2 separate regions of the Homo sapiens genome follow, and region 1 is linked to region 2. Evidence: fine-mapped expression QTL. A gene starts in region 2. The other region holds a variant in brackets. All regions are shown on one strand. Distances are from middle to middle. Region 1 overlaps GBE1 (1,4-alpha-glucan branching enzyme 1). Region 2 holds the start of GBE1 (1,4-alpha-glucan branching enzyme 1).

Region 1 (8,000 bases), 210 kb after region 2:
ATAAAAGAACTAGGAAATGAACCTGAGAAACTATAAACACACACACACACATTGACTTAAAATACATACTTTACAAATTGAGAAATAGGTTACCAACCTGTAAAGCTCATTACTATTTTATCATTTTTTCTCTTATTTGCCAAACTTCATTATATAGTTACGTGTGCTGATCCTGCTTCCTCATACGCTACCCACCTCTCAAACTCTTGTACTTTCCCTGATGCCGTCTCACAATTCAGGAACTTTGGTTTCCAAGATCATCATTGACTTGCAGACCTCTGCACCCACTACCTGAACTCCTTTGACCTCTTGGTTCAGTTTGACTCCTCAGGTTCTCCTTCTCTTTCTTCTTTGTTATGTTATGATTCTCCTGTCTGCTTCACAGACTCCTTCTCCTCAGTTTCTTCTATAATGTATTAATACATCTTTCTCAGGTGTTCTACTGGTTCTCTTTTATTGCTTCCCTACCTCTCTCAGAAAACTCATCTACTTTTATGCTTTGACCATTTCTTTAATGTAAATAACTCCTATATCATTATCTCAAAATCCAACCTTTTATTCTGAATTACAAACATAAATTTTGAAGCTGCCTGAGATCTCTACCTGGTTATCTTGCTGGCTCCTTTAAGTCACTAAATCCAAAACTGAAGTCATCCTCCCTATAAATCTTGATACCCTTTCTTCTTCTTTCTTTTTGTCCTTCTCCCTTCTCCTTTCTTTCTTCTTCTTTTCCTTCCTCCTTCCCTCTTCCTCTTCCTTCTTTCTTCTTTATCCTCATTATTCTGGTAATTAACCATTGAAATCTGGGAGTCATTTTAGTTGTTCCTTTTATTTGTTTATTTTTAACATCCAGCCATAGCTAAGTCACAGTATCCTTATTCTTCGTGACCTTTTCCCCATATACACTTCCACATAATTTTATATGTCTGTTGCATTTGTTTAGGCTTTTGCAGTTTATGCAGCATTTTTGCATGCATAATGTCACTTTTTACAAACAACGTGCAAGGTCGGTATCTTTTTTATAATTTTTATTTTGGGACAGCAAAAATTAATGGTTAAAAGTTCAGCTTTGGAGCCAGTCTGTCTACATTCTGATCCTGGCTGCTTTGCTTCCTGGCTGTATCATTTTTGACTTGTTACTCAATTTTTCTGTGCCTCAACTTCATCGTTTAAGAAAGGGGATTATAATGGTACCTATTTTACTGGGCATTTGTAAGAAAATATTTAATTATGTTAAGAGTTTATGTTGATGCTTTTTATTTAATAAATGTTCGATAAACAAAAAGTTACACAGCAGGAGGTTACACATTGTAAGTGACATATTACAAATTTTAAGTTGTCCTAAAATTTATGTCCTTTGTATCCATATTCCATGCTTCACCCACTGTATGACACATCATTGTGCCTTTTAAAAAATTCTATAGGAGAAATTCTTTATTTAACTGGAGACTGGACTAATTTATATTCAGAGAATTATTAGAAAGCGTAAAACTGCAATATAATTTGTAATTAAATACATCATTTCACAGGGTTTACCTTCTTGATGTTTATACCCTGTGCTCCCACCATTCCTAAAAAGTATTTCTTTAATGGGTCTCAGGAAGAACATTAAAGTAAGTATGTATATATTCCTGGATAGTAGTCTAGAATGTCTCCCGAGTTATGAATATTTAGATATTCATGAGTCTTGACATCTGTCACTTGGAGTATTAAAAGTTTCTCGTTACCCCCAAATACCTGACACATTTAATGATTCTTTGTAAAGTTTCAAGAAATAAAGTTTCCTTTTTATACATTCATGTGCCAGTTTATGAGGGACTCCAATAACTGTTGTGCCATAATTCTGGATTCTTATTTTAATCTTTTTAGGGTAATTAAATTCTCTTGGATTTTTTTTTTACTCTCTAGGTGAGGAATTTCATTTATCTATGAATAGCTTTGTTTATATTGTTTAAAGTTGAATATATTATGTTTATTTGACATTAAGTAAACATTAAATATGTAAGATATTTGATCTGTGATAATAGCATATTTTATTTTAAGTCTCCTTCTGCACTACCCAGGTTTCTTACTGGAAGCTTGGAAATTTACTTGGAAATTTACAAGTTTAGGTACAATTACGTTAAATAGACTTTACTGTATATCTACATGTACAGAACATCTCACTGTACAAAGTAAGGCACACAACTGAAAAGTCCTTCCTACATAGTCCAGATCAAAGCTCTAAACCAGAAGGAAGAAGAGGAGCAAAAAGAGACTATTTATATTGGACTTAGCTCCTTTGAAATAATTTTCACATAACAACCCTGTTTGTGTGTCGTTGAAGAAGACAAGGAGCCATAAAGGGACGTTAGGAAATGTCTATTCTCTAGAAAGCAGTTTATCCAGCTAAAAAAATTATGCTTTTCTGACTGAAGGAAAGATACTTCTCAGTCAGAGGAGGGGATATTTAACTTGGTTAATAAAGAATGGACAGAATTTCTGTAGGCAAAATCAGGCTTTGCAAGTCAAAGAACTAACTGGACAGAAGGCTTCGAAGCAGGAAACCTGGGTCCTGATCAGATTATTACATGTCATCTGGCTCTTTGAAGCAGGGTCTGCATATTGGGAGATGAAGTACAAAAGATAGCAAAGAAACTTTACTCAGCCAGGTGTGAATAGTAGAGATGAGCACCTCCAGATGGCATAATTTAAGTAATGAAACTGTTAGATATGACAAAAATTAAATGCAGCACCCATTAAGTTACTAACTATATTGCTTCACGTCTGTGTTCTTTCCTTTGCTATACTATTTCTGTCATTTAGAACTTTGTCTCCTGTAGATGTACAAAGAATGAGTTAGCCATATGGAAGAGTTTATGGTTTACCTATATGGAGGGTGGTAGTTTGTAGGTTGTGACAAAAGATTTGTGTTTAAGCGCCATTATCTTAAAGATACTAGATTGTTTGTTTATGTATGTTCAACCTATATATGTTTGAATTCTCCCTTTTATTGCCTTCAAAGCCATTTGATAGCCCAATTCATAACTTTATAGTCACATTTTTCAAAAATCAAAATCAGCATTACCCAGAGCAAAGCGAGAGAGCTGAAGCAAGCAAGTACAAACACTGAGAACCTTTTCTTCTTATTGTGGGAAGAAGTTCACAGTGTTTCCCACCAGCTGTCATGCTGCTATGGAACTTTTTTCTCCTTTCTTTGGCACCAGTGGCCTGAGAGGAAGCAAGAGCTGATAGCAGGGAAGCAGACAAGGCTAACTAGCTGTTGGCAGGAACCTGGAGCAATAGAAGCATCATCCAAAGGCAAACCAATACAGGCTCTTTGATTAAGTTATAAGCAGGTAGTTACGTCTCTCTACTTGGGGAGTTAGAGCTCTGATACAGAAGAAAGGCTGTGGGAGATGGAAACCTAGAAAAGTAGCAGCCGGCTGTGCCTTGAACAAGCCTTGGATTCTTACAAAAACACTCCACCAGCCTGGAATGATACCAGTATTCAATTAAACTGATGTCAGTTATCAAATTCTGAGTATTTAAGGAAACATGTTCTTACTAATCTTTTTTATTTTTTTCCCCTGTGGCTATGTGCTTTCTTTTTAAATGTCTGTGCTTAGCTCTTAAAGAGTAATTGACTAGGGAAGTTTGTTAACCTCTGTCACTATGTGTGTTTGCTGTGACCACAGGAACTCACTCTGACTTAGCGGTAGCATATCCTAATCATAGGCAAACAAAGTAGCACAGTCTGTCTTCACTACTAAACTTTTGAGTCTAAACCTAAAGTTGCAATAGCCACAAAGCCACATGTGTAGAATCAATTTCATAGTTGGCTAATTTATTCCTTGCTTTCATATCCCATTTTTCTGCCTTATTTTCTACTGCTTAAAATGGTGTGGAATCTTTCAGTTGGTGCCTTATTCACATGCAAAACATTTATACATTTTTACAAGGTTCTCCATTAGCAAATTATTTTCTGAGTTATTTTTAACTTACTTGCAAAAAATCTGAATTCAGTTTGAATTTTATAAAATAACATTTTTT[TC/C]CCCCCACCATTTCCTTTGTGTGGCTAATTTTCTCCCAATAGAGTATTTTGAGTCTCCTGTTCCATGCAACATCAAAATGGCCTCAAAATGACTGGTGAAAGCCCATTACTGTTGCTATGAAAATTTGTATTAAGAAAATAATATCTGGTTCTTACAACATTGTGTGCAAAAGTATAACACTCATTCTCGATTTAGTCTCATTTGCTTTGTTCATTGTCTTATCCTCGTCTTATATTTTTATTATTTATTTTAAATTTAAAAATGTGCCAAAAAATGGCATATAGGTCAAAGTTTGAATAGCAACATGAACATTTGAAATTGCATCTCCTATTAGTCTGGCATTCAGAAAAGGAAACCTAACCTCTGATAAATAGACAACTGAAGTGCTTTATCTGTTCTCTTCTGATTTAAATATTTCTCTCCCTGATGGTATAGATATGTTCCTCTTTATCCACCCCCTTTCTACCCCATTGTACTTTCTGTCTGTTTTTTTTTTTTTCTTATGGCTCTCATAGAAACCCATTTTGCATCTGTAAAGAAACATTTTTAGACACTTTTTTATCTGTCTCTATACTTCAACTGGGTATTCAAAAAAAAAAAAAAAGACATTTTCCATGAGGAATACATAGTCTACTAATGGAAGCAGACATCATTGACTTTATTTTTTTTCTTTCAACATTTATTTAATAAATCTTTGAGTGTATACTGAATGCTTGCTGTAGTAGAAATAATAGATGAAAATACAGGATATCTGTCCCCAGTCTAATAGAAAGAGGCAAAAACAATATAACCACACACATACAAAACACAGCATAATGCTATTTAAATACTTTCATTAGTAAAGAAAAAAATATATATCCAAGTGCAAGTGGAAGCACAGGAGAACACTCAAGCCTTTTTGCAGGAGTTTAAAAAAAAAACTCTGAAGAGGCTAAACAGCTACAACGTGGAATCATAACACCAATAGTAGCAGCATATGCAAGGTACAAAGAAAGCAGAGGTCAGTAATAAATACACTTCATTCGTACATTTGATAGTGGAATTGGAAGTACATTCTTTTTATAGCTCTTTCATTACCTTCCCTAATGCCTGTACATTCATAATAGATTTCTAGTTAATGTTGTTCAAATCATGTACTTAGTGCCAGATACAATGAAAAGTACGCAGAGACATCTAAGTTCGAATACTAGTCTTGATACTTCATACCTGTATAACCTTAGAAAGTCACATTACTTTCCTGATCTATTATCTGAAAACAGAAATAATGTTCCCTCCCATATTGAAGGGTTTTTGTGAAGATTATTTTTTAAAGTAACTGTTAATAATTGTAGCACAAAGCCTGTGTATATAGGAGGCTCTCAATAAATGACTTTGCTTTTATTTTAATATTGTGATTATTTTACATTTCATTTATTTAAAATCATCTTCCATTTTCTCAATTTTAAAAAAAGGAATTAAGAGATGTATAATTACCCTTCAATACAGTAATGCTAATAAGTCTTTAGCATTTCAAATAAAACTTGTTTATAAGTGTGTTTATATTCATTCTACCACATTTATGTGGAATATAGAAATCTGATTTTGCACTTATGGACATTGCTGATGAAGATTATTTTTTGTTTGTTTATTTTGACAGCCTTCTTTTTTTTTTTTTTTTTTTTTTTTTTATATAAGATAGAGCCTTGCTCTGTCTCCCAGGCTGGAGTGCAGTGGCACAATCTCAGCTCACTGCAACCTCCACCTTCCGGGTTCAAGCAATTTTCCTGCCTCAGCCTCCTGAGTAGCTGGAATTACAGGTGCCTGCCACGCGCTCAGCTAATTTTTGTATTTTTAGTAGAGACAGGATTTCGCCATGCTGGCCAGGCTGGTCTTGAGTTCCTGACCTCAGGTAATCTACCCGCCTTGGCCTCCCAAAGTGCAGGGATTACAGGCGTGAGCCACCACGCCCAGCCTATTTTGACAACCTTCTTAACATTGGACCTAAGAATTTACTTCACCCACTATCCTGTCTTTGCCTTATTGATGAGAACTTAACCACCCCAAGCAATTGTAATCATGTAGATAACACAAAGGATTGATGGGTTTGGCCAGATCAACCAAAGTTCAAGTTGAAAATTGTTTTCCAAGTGCCCATAGCTCATTCAGCTATTACTTCAAGATGTTACACATAATTTATCAGGGGGAGGACTGGGAGAGCAGGGGTAGAGTGAGGGTATGGACCCAGCATGCTTCCCTAGTTCTAACATTCAGCACCACATTCCTGGCCCCTTTCAGCTCTTCTAGAATTGGGGGTATGGATATTTGTCACCATGGCATGATTAGATGGAACAGGAGCATTTGTCTCATATCACTGTGAACCCTGAATATCTAAGACAGGTCTCAGTTCATTTAGAAAGTTTATTTTGCCAAGGTTGAAGATGTGTGCCCGGACACAGCCTCAGGAGGTCCTGATGACATGTGTCCAGCTTGGTCAGAGCAGTTTTGTTTTATACATTTTAGGGAGACATGAGACATCAGTCATAGTAAGATGAACATTGGTTCAGTCCAAAGCAGCAGGACAACTTGAAGGACAGGTGGGACAACTGGAAGTGGGGAGGGGGCTTCCAGGTCATAGGTAGATGAGAGGAAAATGGTTGCATTGAGTTTCTGCTTAGCCTCTCCAAGGGAGGCAATCAGATATGCATTGACCTCAGTGAGCAGAGGGGTGACTTTGAATAGAAGCGGTTCCCAGCTTGTCTTTTCCCTTTAGCTTAGTGATTCTGGGGCCCCAGGATTTGTTTTCCTTTCATACTCTCCTACTACTTTCTTTAACTTTTACAGATCCTTTAAGCCTTCTTTTGATCCCTCTTGTCCAGCACCCCCCATCATGTTAAGGAAATGGATATTTTTATGGTTGTGTAAAATCTCTCCTATTAAATTGTGAGTTCTATGAGAACAGGGATGATGCTGATGTATATTAAGCAATTAAGCATGTTATCTGATGCACAGATACACTTAAGTAGTTCTAAAGTTGTATTCTTCTGTTATAGTTAAACATATGACCACTTTAACATGGGGCTTAGAATATATTCTTTGGCTTGTATCTTTTAAGGGAGGAGTGTGCAGGAGAAAGACATGAGAGAACGTGGAGACCAAAGCATTTTGTTTTAAAACAGTGAATCTGTTACCAGAAAAGGGTCCCTATACAGACCCCAAGAGAGGGTTCTTGGATCTAGGCAAGAAAGAATTCAGAGAAAGTCCATAGAGTAAAGTGAAAGCAAGTTTATTAAGAAAGTAGAGGAATGAACGAATGGCTACTCCATAGACAGAGCAGCCCCAAGGGCTGCTGGTTGTTCATTTTTATGGTTATTTCTTGATTATTTGCTAAACAAGGGGTGGATTATTCATACCTCCTCTTTTAAGACCACATAGAGTAACTTCCTGACGTTGCCATGGCATTTGTAGACTGTCATGGTGATGGTGGGCGTATAGCAATGAGGATGACCAGAGGTCACTCTCATTGCCATGTTGGTTTTGGTGGGTTTTAGCTGGCTTCTTTCCTGCATCCTGTTTTATCAGCAAGGTCTTCATGACCTGTGTCTTGTGCCAACCTCTGTCTCATTCTGTGACTTAGAATGCCTAGTCATCTGGGAATGCAGCCCAGTAGGTCTCAGTCTTATTTTACCTAGTCCCTATTCAAAATGGAGTTGCTCTGATTCAAACACCTCTGACATATATTCTCCCTCCATTTTATAAGAGAACTCTTAAAGGTTATAGAGGGATGAAGATCCATCTTCTGTAACTTCTTCAGGCTGAATAAGGGCAATGATATTCCTACCTAACTGTTAGGTCTCTTGCATTCAGGGTAGAGAGGAGCTCAGTCAGAAAGCATTGGTATGGTGATAGCCATTCGTAACTATTGAGTGCTGAAAAAAAGGTGATATCTGGAAGATTAATAACTGTCCAGTTTCAGAGAACATTGAGTAA
Region 2 (8,995 bases):
AAATACAAAAGATTAGCAGGGTGTGGTGGTGTGCACCTGAAATCCCAGCTACTCGGGAGGCTGAGACAGGAGAATCGCGTGAACCCAGGAGGCAGAGGTTGCAGTGAGCCGAGGTCACGCCATTGCACTCCAGCCCGGGGGACAGTGCTAGACCCTGTCTCAAAAAAAAAAAAAGTTACTTCTTTTTTCTTTCTGCTCTCTGATTTTCTTTTTCATTGCTAATGATTTTCAACGAGGGGGATATGTAATTTTAAAAGGTATATTTATATAGTCTAGTTTATCTTTAGTTGGTATAAATCATTTGCCTTTTAAAAAGCATATTTAGTATTATTTTATCCTTCAGAATCTTTTTAAAAATAGCTTTGAGACATAATTCACATACCATACAATTCATCCATTTAAAGTGTACAATTAGTTTTTAGTATATCCACAGAGCCATGAAACCATAACCACAACTAATTTTAGAAAATGTGTACCAAGAAGAAATCGCATATCCACTTGCACTCACTCTTCGTTTCCCCTGCCCTCCAGCCCTAGGAAGCTAAAAATCTGCTTTCTTTCTCTGTAGATTTGCATATTCTGAACATTCCATATACATGGAATCATATAATATGTGGTCTTTTGTGAGTGGTTTCTTTCACTTGCTATGTTTTTAAGGTTCAACTGTGATGTAGCACATTATCAGTAACTCTTTGGCTTTGTAATGCAAACTATTGAAAAGCAAACATGTGACATGAGACTCAAATACCAAGAAAGAAAGGTTTCAAAATATTTATTGAGGATCTCCTATTTGCCACCGTTAGCTAGTAAACGCATATGGATCATTCTCTAATTGTTATCTTCATTCCTACATGATCTATTAGGCACCAGAATTACATTTCCAGCTGCCATATTGACTTGGGTATCCAGGAGCTGACACCTTGAACTTAGTTCTCCCTCTTTCAAGGCCTTCTTTATTTTTGCTAGACAGAATTCCCCCAGGCTCAGAAGTTCAATCTTTAATTCCCTTTTCACTTTCATATCCAATCAGTCACCAAATCTTATAAACTCTATTTCTCAAATATTTTCTCTGTTTTGGTGTGTCAAAAATGTTATGGGTTGAATTGTATTTCTCCACAAAAAGATACACTGAAGTCTTAACCTAACATTACCTCAGAATATGACCTTATTTGGAAATATAATAATTGCAGATATAATTAGTTAAGATGAGGTCATACTGAAATAGGGTGTGTCCTTCATTCAATAAGGCTGGTGACCTAATAAAAAGAACACTATGTGAAGAGACAGAGACACAGGAAAATGCCATGTCACAATGGAGGCAGAGATCCAAATGATGCAACTATAAGCCAAGAAATGCCAAAGATTGCTGGCCATCACCAGAAGCTAGGAGAGAGGCATGGAATAATTCTCCTTCAGAGCCCCCAGAAAGAACCAAACCTGTGGACACCTTGATTTTTAGCCCCTAGAACTAGGGTAAGGTGACAAATTTTTGTTGCTTAAATTACCTAGTGTGTGGTACTTAATCACTACAGCCCTAGGTAACTAATACAGACACTAAATGACTTCATAATAGTTTAGGCATTCATTATATCATGCATCCCAAATCTTTATTTCATCATTTTATCTGCTACCCCAGACCAAGCCATCATCATTTCATGCCTAGGCAATGTTAATCACCTCCTAATTGTCTCCCTTGTCTCCCACAAGAATGGCACCCCTATTGCCATTCTTGTATCCTTATAATTCATTTGCCACATAGAATATTTTAATAATTAAACCATATCATATCAGTGTTCTGCTGAAAACTCTCCAATAGCATCCCTTAAATGGACATTAAAGGGCCTATATGAACGAACAGCTGCCTAGCTCTTGCACCACAATTCCTGCCACTCCTCATTACACACCGGGTATGCTAGATTTTTTTTTTTTTTTAAAAGACCAATTCAATTCCTCCATTGCACGAACTCTGCCATTCTGGAATGCTCTTCCTCTCATGGCTCATTTCTTCTTGTCATCACACTTCAGCTTAAATGTCAGTTCTGAACGGCCTTTCTTGACGACCGGAACTAACACAGATATTTGCTCAGTTTTAATTCTCGACAATGCACTTACCACTATCTGACATTGTTTTGTATTATTTTATGTATTTCACTGGTAATTGTGTCTCCTCTCCCTCCTACCCCCAATAGAGTATGACAACTGGGACTTGTCTTATCATTTATCCACAGTACGTGGGAAAATGGCCGGCACATGGGACTTCAATAAATATGTGCTCAATGGTGAACCACCTAGGTAGGCAGATATGTACGCTAGGATCGTGCTCGTGGGGAGCTTAGGTTCTAAAGGGAAAGGTCAATAAATAGGAGAAAAACAAACACCTAGATTCTGTTAACTGTTGCATAGAAGAGATTGAAGTTATACAGAAGACACTGAGGAGTCTATAATCAGAAGTTTCTCAGGTATGAGGTGACATTTTTGCTGAGGCTGGAATGAAGGCTTGGAAAAAATTAAGCAAGTAGAGCTCAGCTCCCTGAAAATTTCCAACAGAGAGAACAGCAAGCAAATAATCTTAGAGGCTATTATACAACAAATTCACTGAGTTCCAGGAAAGTCAGTGTGACTAGAGCATAGTAAAACTGGAAAATGATGAGAAAAGTGGCTGGAAAGGTAGTCAGGGTCCAGATTATACAAGCCTTGTTAGAGAATGATAAGCTGTTTCTATTTTACCCTAAGTGAAATACTATGCTATTTAAGTTGCTAAATGACATCGTCTGATTTACTCAGTGTAGAGTCTCACCAAACTGTGTCCCCAACCACCAGCATCAGAATCACTTCTGAGCTTGTTAAAAATGCAATCTGAAGCACCACATCGGAACTCAATTAAGATCCCTAGGTGATTCATATGCACATTAAAGTGTGAGAAACACTGGTACAGAGAATGGAGTAGAGGTGAGAAAGAGTAGAAGAGGGGAAGTCAGTTAGAGAGCTACATTCTGGTCCAAGTGAAGGAAAACAGTGGCCTGCATAAGAGTGACAGCAGGAAGGATGAGAAGACGGATTCTAGGTCACGTTTTGCAGACAGTTTGTTTAGGTCTCCTAGCCAGCTAAATGGAAATCTCAGTAGACAGGCAGTGATACAAGCCTGGGTTTCTGAAAAAAGTTTAGGCTTGGAGATGTAGATCTGTGGGTCTGTTATTAATAGTTGTCCTGCTTCGGGTTTTTATTTTTTTTTAATTTTCTTCCTTTTTTAGTGCTTTATATTTTACAAATGTCTGCAGCAGTTTTTTGTCATCTTTATGGAAAACAAGGCACGTCTTAAAGTCGTTCAAGTCCTTCACTTTTTCACACTGAGGTCTGTCTTCATATCCACTTATCTTTCAAGTCTATGAAACCCCTTATAAAAACTTTCCTTTGAAATATTTTAAAATTCAAGGCCCACGGCTGATTAATACTGTTTCTCCTCCATAACCCCTAGGATCCTCCAGTTCTGGGTTTTAACAAGAAAAATATCCTCAATCCTCTCTAGTTTCTAGGTGTAAAGCAGCTTGGACCCTCCTGGGTTTGGTGGGTCCATCTCTCTTGGAGTCCAACTCTGTATTCCTAAAAAGCAATTATTGAAATAGAAGCTAGTCAGTTAATGGCAATAAAAGAAGGGAATTCCAAGTGGGAGCTTCCCAAGCCAAGAGGAAGAGAGGTTTCTTGCCTTATCACTGTAAGTGGCAGAGTGGAGTTCCAATTCAATGATATCATTTGTGTTATCAAAGGTAGTTTAATCGTTGAAAAGCTTGTTAACAATTATAAACACAGGCAAATGCCTTTTCCTTTTTGGCCTTACGGAGAATGAGAAAAGTTCTTCCCATGGCTAAAATTCTTAGCTGTTGGTAATGCAGAAAAGAGTACCAGAACAGCAGAATTCCAACGGTATTCCAGGATTCTGTGTCTTGGTTAATTTTAAATTCACGTGACCTGGCAAACTTAGGAGAGTCCTGGTTGTAAGAGGTATTAACATTTTCAGCAGTAGTACTCTAGCTACACTTGACTGTTCCCCTCTCTGTGAATTTACATGATATGTTTGAAATACTGCCCCTCAAAAGTCTCAGAACTTTGAGAAATACGGTCCTTTCCAAAAAAACCCCTTATGTCCAATTTGAAGGGGTCGCTGTCAGTGGGTGCTTAAGTGGGTAAAGAAAAGCCAAGAATATGTCAGGGTGAGGAAGGCCAAGGCTGAGCGAGGTCAGCTTGGGACCCACCTCCTAGAATGACCTCCGCCAGCAGGAAAAAACCGTTAAGGGGAGGAAAGGGCAGGTCCCTGCGGCCTCCAGGTGCCAGCCGCGTGAGTGGGCGGAGAGGCCTCGGTGCCTCCTACCCGCTCCGGACGTGCGTCCCGGCATCACCCCGGGATCCGCTCCTCCCCGCTGGCGGGGGGAGAAAGGGCAGGAGGCCTTCCGTCCCGGCTATAAAGGGCCCCGGACCGCCGCGGCTCGCCTCGGCTTGCCTCGACACGCCTAGGCGCCCTCCGGCTCCGCCCTAGCCGCCGCGTCCCAGCTAGAGCTCCAGCGCCCGCTCAGGCCCCACTCGACCTCTCGGGCCTCGGCTACTTGGACTGCGGCGGAATATGGCGGCTCCGATGACTCCCGCGGCTCGGCCCGAGGACTACGAGGCGGCGCTCAATGCCGCCCTGGCTGACGTGCCCGAACTGGCCAGACTCCTGGAGATCGACCCGTACTTGAAGCCCTACGCCGTGGACTTCCAGCGCAGGTACCGCCGGAATCCCACCACCCCCACTTAGACAGGCAGCCCGCCTCCCAGGAGCCGTCTCGGGACACGGGCCGCCCCTCGGCCCTCGCGCGCCAACCCCGCCCCAGGCGGGGAGGAACCTGAGTGGGCGGGGCTCGGGGTGACTCGGGTAACCGGGTTCTGTGGCTTCCGTAGTGGCAGGTTTGACAGCGCTGGTGCCCGGAGCGGGCGCTGAAGAAACTTCTTTCCTCATCCCCTTTCCCCTCTGTTCTAATCAGCGGTCTTGCGCCATAGGGTACGTGCTGTGGCTCCAACACTTATTCCCCAGAGTGCTGCTGGGGAGTGACTCACCGCCGCTGCAGGTTTTCTGACTTTGGCACCCACTAGCGTGGGCCTGTGGAGTAACGTGGGCATAACTCCTGGCACGTGTAATTACGCATTTAAAACTTTCTAGTTTATTTCATAGCAAATGTTGTGATTTTATATCTAAGAGGATTCCTTCAGGCAGACACTATATCCTTTTGTTTTTTCCTTGCTAATATTCCTCATTTAGGGGAAGATTACACCTACATTGATCAATTTTTTCTCCCCTTGGATCAACATTGAGAAGTTAAATGTACATCAACATTTGTCCGTGTGTGACTTTAACCATCTTGAAGAGGGAGAAAGGTCAGGAAAGCAACTTTTACAGGCCAATGTCGTTTTAGCTTGTCTTCTACCATTGTGTACCATACAACTTTAGTTACTGGGCTAATAATTCTATTCATAAGTTCCACTAAAAAGGTACAGGTCTTTTTCTGTTGTCGTTGTTGTTTGAAGTAAAAGAGCTATTATACAAGTTGTAATAGTTATACTTGTGAGGTTACCCCATTTTGATTTAATAGTTTCTCCCCTTTTAGGAGAGACACTGCAGAATGGAAACTATCCTGGCAACAGAATATACATGGCCAATTTTTCGAGTGATGGAAAACATCCAACTAGTTAACTGGCATGAAGGAGCGTTGAGAGTAATGAAAATGGGTTGATTTGGAGTTTGAAAAAAGCCCAGCAAATTGTTTGTGTCCTAGCATTTTCAGGTATTAAATGCATTCAAATCAGCAAGTGTTTATTGAGGAACTCCTATAAATAAAACACTGCTCTAGGGATTGTAAGGGATGTGAAGTTTCATTCTTGAGCTTGTATATAGTAGTGAATGAGGCCTCTGTAAAATAATCACCTTGAGCTGTCCCTCACTTAATCAGATGATTATGCTCTTATATAAACCATATGAGGAGCAGCCTTGTGAAATTGTTTTCAGAATTTACAGTATATGCTTTCAGAGAAACTTAGTGCATAATCGTCATAGGTTTAAGGTTGGATTTGATTTAGAAATAGTCAGAAAAAATTTAGAACAAAAGATAGTGATTAAAGGTAGTGGTTAGATTTTTTTTTTGATGTCCTTGTAACCATGACATTAATTTACCTGTGTGCTTTGTAAAAGGACACTTAAGATATTTATTAAAGAAGAGTTGTGGAAATGTTTTATCTACACCCCCTTCCTTTTTTTTTTAAATGACACAAACAGATTAACATTCTTTATTAAGTGTTTCTTTCATGTACTTTATTTCCAACTCCACTGGGATTGAAGCATTTATAATCTTCTTTCATGGTTTGCCAAAACTAATGAAGGGAACAAAGGCCAAGATAAAGAAGGGAAGAGAATCCAGTGTGCTTGGTGAAAAGTCTCGTCCAGTGGGCCCTCATGCCTCACTCTGACCCGGATTTTACTTTTGTCCTTGGTTCTGAGTAATGGCCATTTGCTAGCATACATGTTCCATTTAGGCATATCAAATAGTAATTTGGCATTTGTTAGTGGTAACTTCTATTGTTAACACTTGAAGAATAAAACATTTTTCCTTCATACAATCTGGTCTTAGTTCCTTGTCCAATTTTCCATTTATTTCTGATAATCCATTTGGACTGTGTGTCTTTGGCCTAACACAAATACATAACCAGTCAAACACTTAGGTGCAAAGTATGCTTACTAAGGAGTGAAGAAAATTTGAGGTACAAACAACAGTATATAATTAAGGTGATGAAGAAGGAAATTTCTCTTTGATGGACTGTCTCATCCTTCCCCAACAGATATCTTTTGATTTGAAATTTTTTGGATGTTCCCTTAGGATGTTTTGGATGTTCCTTCCCTTCTTTACCTTGGCCTTTTCCCCTTCTGTATTAGTCCGTTTTCATGCTGCTGATAAAGACATACCTGAGACTGGGCAATTTACAAAAGGAAGAGGTTTATTGGACTTACAGTTCCAAGTGGCTGAGGATGCCTCGCAATCATGGCAGAAGGTGAAAGTCATGTCTCACATGGTGGCAGACAAGAGAAGAGAGCTTGTGCAGGGAAACTCCCCTTTTTAAAACCATCAGGTCTCGTGAGACTTACTTACTATCAGGAGAACAGCGTGGGAAAGACCTGCCCCCATGATTCAGTTACCTCCCATCAGGTCCCTCCCACAACACGTGGGAATTCAAGATGAGATCTGAGTGGGGACACAACCAAACCATATCACCTTCATTAGTTGTTCTTTTCACCTTCTGTACCTGTGAGAATTTTGAATCAAGTGTAGAGGATTAATGAGTTACTCTGCTATAAAATAAAAATTAGTACATTATTAGCATGACTGACCACCTCCATGTTGTCTCATTGATGACCTCCCAAAATAGCATTTTCCACTTGATTTTTCTACCTTTTATTTAGTTATTTACTTGTTGTTACACTACAATTAGTTGTTATAATTCCAAAATCTTAGTGCTTTAAAACAACATTTAATTGTTCCCATATTACATGTCAGCATGAGTCAGCCAGAGGGCCCTCCTCATGGCAGTCACTCAAAAATCTAGGCTTATGAAGGATTTGTTTTGAAACATGCTTCTGTAGAGGTGGTCACAGTGCAAAGAGAAGCATGTTGAACTATGCACTATTTCTTACAGCTTTTGCCTAGCAGTGAGTCCATTCTGCTGATACGTTACATTGGCCAGTGCCCATCAGCTTGCCATGTGGGTGAAACAGAGAATTGGCATTTGTGAACATTGTCAAAACAACACAATTTAATAATACTACTTTATACCCTCTGTTTAATGTTTATAAAGTACTTTCAGATCCGGTATTTAATGTAATCCTCATAACAAAACCATGAGGTAGACAGACGGTGGGCATTTTTCCTGTTTTGCAGATGAAGAAACTAAGTGATGGGCTTGAGCATATATGGCATAAGTAAGTGCTGCAACTGTGATTAATCTTTCTTTACTGAAACTGTTCTCAACCAGTTCACAGACAACTTCATGATAATTTAGGGATCCCTCTTTTCTTTATCTCTAGCATTGTACATGTTGGACTATTTCTTGGCTCTTTGAAGCCATAATCTTGCTTTTCTTTCATTTTCTCAGCCTCTTTTTGACCATTTAATGTAAGAGATTTTCAAGGTTCTTCCCTGGGATCATTTATGTATTTCTATTGTATATTTTCTCCCTAGACATTCTCATCCATCCCATGGATTCCATCTATCTACTGAGGCTGCCCACATCTGTCTCCACTCTAGATCTTTCTCCTTATCTTGGACTTATTTATATCTTCATTTTGATGTTTTATAAATACAAATCTCAACATGTATAAAACTGAACTTAACAGATTTTCATTCCAAACATGTTTGTCCCTGTCAACCCAATCGCAGTGTCTGGAATCTTCCTCTACCAGCTGCTCAAACCTAAAAGGTAACGAGTGATTTCTAATTACTCCCGTCTCCTCCTAGACCTTTGAGTCTAGTCAATTGTAGCCCCTAACTTTTAAGTATGTAGCATGCTGCCTTCCTACTGCTGCCATCCTAGTTCAGGTTGCTAGCATCTCTAGTATGGTTTACAGAAACAACCTCATAGCTGTTGTTCTTTTTTCAAATCTTCACTCCATTCTAACTTCTCCACTCCTCTTCATTCCAAACAGAGTAAGTAGAATGGATTTTGAAATAAACAAATCTGATCATGGTACTCCTCTGCTTAAACCCTTTCAACCATTCCTCATTTCTCTTGAGTTCTGTACAGCCTCCTTCCCATAACTTAGAAGATTCTGCATTATCTGGTCCCTGTTGACCTTTTCAGCCTCCCTCTCGGTACCATCTAACCAGAGGGCCATAAAGGGAGAGGGCAGCTTGGATCTCTGGGGACCATTCTGTAAAGGTACCAGAATACCAGTAAAATAAATTAGAAACATGATATCCAT

What was found.
Region 1: its variant is fine-mapped to the expression of GBE1 in whole blood (INTERVAL, PIP above 0.99).

The regions. Positions count from the first base shown.
Region 1 is chr3:81,550,222-81,558,221 of GRCh38, reverse strand. The region is part of intron 12 of GBE1 (1,4-alpha-glucan branching enzyme 1); the gene reads left to right. Among named protein-coding and RNA genes, the nearest start is that of GBE1, 210 kb to the left of the region's middle. The variant TC/C (reference allele first, on the strand shown) is at 4,033.
Region 2 is chr3:81,757,138-81,766,132 of GRCh38, reverse strand. GBE1 (1,4-alpha-glucan branching enzyme 1) reads left to right here and starts at 4,488. Exons shown (of 16, transcript NM_000158.4): 1 at 4,488-4,758. The coding sequence starts at 4,616. RefSeq lists silencers at 4,260-4,359, 4,860-4,939, 7,521-7,815 and enhancers at 4,015-4,623, 4,410-4,699, 5,040-5,209.